2 separate regions of the Homo sapiens genome follow, and region 2 is linked to region 1. Evidence: fine-mapped expression QTL. A gene starts in region 1. The other region holds a variant in brackets. All regions are shown on one strand. Distances are between the middles of the regions. Region 1 holds the start of LINC01954 (long intergenic non-protein coding RNA 1954). Region 2 has its middle 4.5 kb from the start of LINC01954.

What was found. PIP is the estimated chance that this variant, and not a neighbour inherited with it, causes the effect. A credible set is the group of variants that fine-mapping cannot tell apart.
Region 2: its variant is the best candidate, but not a certain one, in a credible set for the expression of LINC01954 in atrial appendage (GTEx, PIP 0.63).

The regions. Positions count from the first base shown.
Region 1 is chr2:10,876,665-10,879,574 of GRCh38, reverse strand. LINC01954 (long intergenic non-protein coding RNA 1954) reads right to left here and starts at 1,308. Exons shown (of 2, transcript NR_110575.1): 1 at 1,131-1,308.
Region 2 is chr2:10,872,323-10,875,232 of GRCh38, reverse strand. No RefSeq gene overlaps it. Among named protein-coding and RNA genes, the nearest start is that of LINC01954, 4.5 kb to the left of the region's middle. RefSeq lists an enhancer at 1,117-1,376. The variant C/T (reference allele first, on the strand shown) is at 1,206.

The DNA.
Region 1 (2,910 bases):
AAACGGCCTTAGGTTCCCCGCCTCCAAACCCTATTCTCCTGCCTCACCAGCACCTCAGAAGGTGACCTTCACTGGAAACAGGTTTGCTGAAGATGTGATTAGTTAAAATAAGATGTCCTGCTGCACTAGGGTGTGCCCTTAATCCAGTGTGACTGTGTCCTTAGGAGAGAGACACACAGAGACACATGAGGACAGAAGCAAGCCTGAGGTGCCACGGATGCCACAGACGTCACAGACGCCATGGACTGTCAGCCACCAGCAGCTGGAGGAGCAGGAAGGACCCTCCCTAGGCCTCCAGATGGGGCACGGCCCTGCCGATTCCTGGATCTCAGACTTCCGGCCTCCAGAACTGTGAGAGAATCGATGTCTGTTGCTCAAGCCCCAGCGTGGTGCTTTCTTACAGCAGCCCCAGGACACTGGGACACTGGGACACTCACACACACAACGTCCATAACCATTTTACTTTTCAGAGACTTGAACAAGCTAACCTGCAAGAAGTTCCAAGAAGGAGGAGGCAATCACCCCCTTGTCTCCATTTATTTTACCACAAACCTTTTTCCTCAAAAAAACTCAGTGTGCCATGAAACGTACTTTGAGAAGTGGGGGTCTTTGGCATGCATCTGTGGTACCCCAGGAAGGTGACATAGAAGGAGGGGCCAGGCAGGGACCACAGAGTCTGGGTGCCCCTCCAGAGAGGGTGTCTCACCAAGCCACAGGCCAACACCAGGCCCCGCAGAGACCCCTGCTCGTGCTCAGTGAATGAGTGGGCACCCCGACTAACAGGAATTTCATCCTATTGACAGACAACCGACCCTCTGCCTCTGGACCAGTGTAGGGGTTCACCCCAAAGGGAGGCCCCACCAGACATTTGCTCGCCTCCCTGGCCTCAACTCCCAGGCCTCCCCAGCCCCTTGCCCACCCCAGGCTTCCGTGACACCAAGCTGCCACATGCCTTGCCTTCTCTGCTCTGGGCCTTCTCACACATTGTTCCTGCTGTCTAGAATGACCCCCTACTCTCACTCCAATTCCACCTTTTGTCTGCTGACTGGATCGCCACTCATTCATGAAGGCCAAGTTCAGGGACTATGGACGCCCCTCTCAGGCCACACCTCCCCACCCTCTGCCAGCACCTTCCACAGTGAGGGCCCTGACAGCTCCTCCACCCTGGTGTCCAGGCAGCTTCTCGCAGTGAAGAGAAGATGAACTTCAACATGGCGGTAGCAGTTCACGCTGACCTTCTCCCTTGGCCTTGGGCAACTTGCTTTGCCTCTTCAAATTTCTGTTTTCTCATCGATAAACATTATCTATGAGCCAGATGTTTGTGAAAATAAAATAGCGTATTACTGATAGGTGCTGGACATCTAGTCGGTGTAAATAAAATTGCGTTGTTATACTGTTGGTAACATAGGATTTGTCCGGGGGCAGCTGGACCGGGAGCTCCTTGAGGACAGAGGCGGTGGGTGTGCCGCTCCTCTCTGCAGCCGAGCCCCCAGTCCTCCCAGAGTGAATGTTTGCTGACTGCACGAGGGAGCCATCCCCTTGGAGGCTCAGCAGGGTGTGGGCTGTGTTGTCAGCCCTTCCTCCTCCTGTTCACAGCCTTCCCTTAATGACTCAGGAGCACTCCCGGCAGCATCCCCTCTTACAACACACTGCCTTGCTCCAGGGTTGGCGATGGGATCGTTCCCCCCAGTTCCTAGAGCCTAACAGCACCTAGAGCACTGTGATTCTGCGTCTGATTCTGAGTCGTGGGGACATGAGCATCAGGGGTCTCCCCCAAGCACTCCATTTAACATTCACCCCCACGCTGGCACCATCAGCCGAGCAGATAGCATTTCCTGTCTCAGAACGTTCTTGTCATTTGTTTAAGCAAGTTGAAAACTGCTGCACCAGATCCCACTGAAAGGAAGTACTCAGAAGTCAGGTGGGTTGGGAAGTCGGGGAAGAAGGTCCCTCCCTTTACATGTCGTAATTTTTTCTGTTTTCTAAATTTATTTATACTGGATGTTCTAACATGCTGATAAAAGCCATCTACAAAAACATGCATTCATTAAACAGATATTGGGTACCTTCTATTCACCAAGCTCTGTAATGGGGTAATGGAGTCAAAATTAAAATTAAAAATTCCTACCCTTAATAAATATATTGATTAAGGTACACATTAAATGGCTAGAACAAAAAACGCCCCTACAGACAATGACCCAAACACTATAAGAGTTTGTTTTTCTCTTTTGTAACAGTCCCAAGGTGACTTCCACTCCACAAGGGCATTCCAGGAATCAGCTTCCTTCTATCTTTTTTTTCTTGCTGAGGTATAACTTACATGCAATAGGCACATAAATCTTAAAAGAATAGCTCAATCAATTTTTATGTGTGTATACACCTGTGTAACCACCACCCAAGTCAAAGTACAGAACTTTTCCAGCACTCAGGCTAGGCATGGTGAGTCACGTCTATAATCCCAGCACCTTGGGAGACCCAGGTAAGAGAATCACTTGAGGTCAGGAATTCAAGAATGGCCCGGGAAATCTAGTGAGACCCTGTCCCTATAAAACATAGAAAAAATTAGCTGGGCATGGTGGCTTTCACCTATAGTCCCAGCTACTGTGGAGGCTGAGGCAGGAGAATCACTTGAGCCCACGATGTTGAGGCTGCAGTGAGCTATGATTGTGCTACTGCACTCCAGTCTAGGCTACAGAAGAAGACCTTGTCTCAAAAAAAAAAAAAAAGAAAAGAAAAGAAAAGAAAAAGAATGCTTCCAACATTCAAGTTCCTCCTGTCTTATTGCTTTGTAATACCCTATGGTGTTATCTTCATTCCACAACAAAAACTCACTCATTTTATCACCTCTACATTTCAACCCACAGGAAAGAGAGAGAAAAAGGAGGAAGGCATGTAATTTCCTAATTTAAA
Region 2 (2,910 bases), 4.3 kb after region 1:
TGCGGCAGAGGCAAAGCTCTGGGCCAGTACAGCTGAAAGGAGGAGGCTTCCTCCAAGCTGAGGCAATGCCAAACACAATGGAGGCTGTGGTGAAAAGCAATTAGGAGAAGACTAGTAGATTCATTAAAGATATAAGCTAAGCCATAGGTTGGCTAGTTTTCCAGCAAGAACCAGGAAAAGAAGCAGATAAAAAGATCTCTCCTAGAGTAAGAACAAATCTGAAACACTGACCTTAAAAACTATCCCTCAGAGGCCGGGTGTGGTGGCTCATGCCTGTAATCCTAGCACTTTGGGAGGACGAGGTGGGCAGATCATCTGAGGTCAGGAGTTTGAGACTAGCTGGGCCAACATAGTAAAATCCCGTCTCTACCAAAAATACAAAAATTAGCCAGGCATGGTGGCTTATGCCTGTAATCCCAGCTACTCGGGAGGCTGAAGCAGGAGAATTCACTGGAACCCAAGAGGCAGAAGCTATAGTGAGCCGAGATCGCGCCACTGCACTCCAGCCTGGATGACAGAGCAAGACTCCGTCTCAAAGAAAACACAAACAACAACAAAAAGCTATCCCTCAGAGAGGTTACACCCTATCAGTCTTTGTGTGCCACCATCCCCCTCTTTCTCGGTGCTACCTAGAGTGGTGGCAGCCATCTCTTACTCGGCATCATGGCCACCCTCAGACCCCTTGTGAAACTCAAGATCATAAAAAAGAGGACCAAGAAGTTCATCCAGCACCAGTCAGACGTATGTCAAAATGAAGCATAACAGGTGGAAACCCAGAGGTATTGACAACAGGGTTTGTAGAAGGTGCAAGGGCCAGATCTTAATGCCCAACATTGGTTATGGGAGCAACAAAAACACAAAGCACCTGGGGCCTAGTGGCTTACAGAAGTTCCTGGTCTACAATGTCAGGGAGATGGAAGTGCTGCTGAAGTGCAACAGAGTTAAGGACAGCAGAGGCCACACCACGCTCAAGAGCTGGCACTGCCTATCCTTGGAGTGAGCTCTGTGCTGGAACGTAGCTTGTGCTGGTGCCAGGAGGGCACAGGAAGGAGTGTGAAGGTTGCTTGTTTGTTTGTGAGAGGAGACATCTAAGGAAACAGAATTGACTTTATCATCATCACTTCTTATCAGCTGTCAAAGATAACTGTGGGCCTCATGCGGTATGGGACCAAGTGACTGCTTTTCACCTATAATCTGGAAACACC[C/T]GTCAGGCCAGGAGAACCGGAAATGAGCCATGAAGAGAACGTTTGCCTGATGCACAGCCAGGATCGAGTCATTCTAAGAAGCTCTAATTTATTCTGCTTGAGAAATCCCCTGAGAAACTTCTCTTGGGAAGCCACAGTTGCCTCTGTTCCTGGCCCCACCTTTTCTCATCAGTGACTTTATCATCTCACCAAATGGAGGCACTCAGAAGGCAGACGAGTCAGACGGCTCTTACCCAGTGAAGGCCTTGCTGTCACTCTAAAATGGACTATGATGGGTGGGTGGGTGGGTGGGTGGGGTGAAGCTCTTGGCACAGCCCCTAATCCTCTCAAGGATGGATTTCTCTACAGGGCACGGGGAGCCAGTGAGCTGGAGGATGGGGGTGAAGCCACAGAAGGGGCAGCTTCAGCTGCTTCTGCCAGCCTCAGGATGACCACTTTTCTTGCTGGCCTGGCTAATTTTATGCACCCGCCTCTCACACCAGAGAAGTTGAGGTTGTTGGTTGGGGGAAAGAAGGGAGAAAAAAAAAACTGGTCCCTGAAATGGCTCTCACAGTCTGTATCTGGAAAGTACCAATGGCATTTTCTGCCAAAATGCTACCCAGCAGGTTTTAAATATCACACAAGCATGTCTCCACATCAGTGATACGTCTGAGTCTGCAGTGCTGGTCAGAGGCAGTTCAGCCCAACAGCAGGCACTGGGGCTGTCATGTTAACACTCATATCCCTGGTGCCTCCCACGGGGCTGGCACAGAGCTGGTAGTCAATAAAGATTTTCTAAATGATTTAATGAATGAAACAACAACAACAAAAAGCTATTCCTTAGAGAAGCCCAAATTTAATTGAATCAGTCAATAGAGCAACCTAGGGCATTGTTGAAAACAACAGGGAAATCAGCCAGCAATTTGTGGAGTTTAACAACATATGGCTGTGGTCAGGGAAAAAGACAATCAAAGAGAGCCCTGTCAAATCTGCTGCTAACCCAGGGTAACTGTGCATATGCCCAAGGCTGTGCCTCTGAGGAGCAACATCAGAGGCTTTAACTTGTGGGGACTGGAGGGTGGACTTCACAGCCAGTCACTAAACAAATAAACAATCAAGTATTACTAACAAGCCCCAGAGGAGAAGAGAACCCATCTCTACAGTTGCTGTATTATTTACAATGTCCCATTTCCAACAAAAAATTATGACATGTAAAGAAACAGGAAAATCTGACCCATATATGAGTGGAAAAGCAGGAAACACAAACTGAGAGCAACCAGCTATCAAATTTGACAAAGACTTCAAAGTAGTTATTATAAATATATTCAAATAACTAAAGGAAATCATGATTATAGTAAAGTAAACCATGATTAAAGTAGGGTAAAGGAAGGTGTGATGACAATGTTGAACTAAATAGAGACTATTGATATAGACTAAAGAGATGGAAATTCTTAAAAAGAACCAAATGGAAATCCTGGAGTTGAAAAGTAATAACTGGAATGACATTTTCACTAGATGGGCTCAAAAGATTTATTTGAACTGGCAAAAGAAAGAATTACCAAACTTGAAGATGGATCAATAGAGATTATGCAATTTGAAGAAAAGAGAAAAAGAAAGAATGAAGAAAAATGAACAGAATCTCAGGAAAATGTGGAACACCATTAAATGCATCAACATATGCATAATGAGAGTCCCAGAAGGAGAAAAGAAAAAGAAAAAAGCAGAA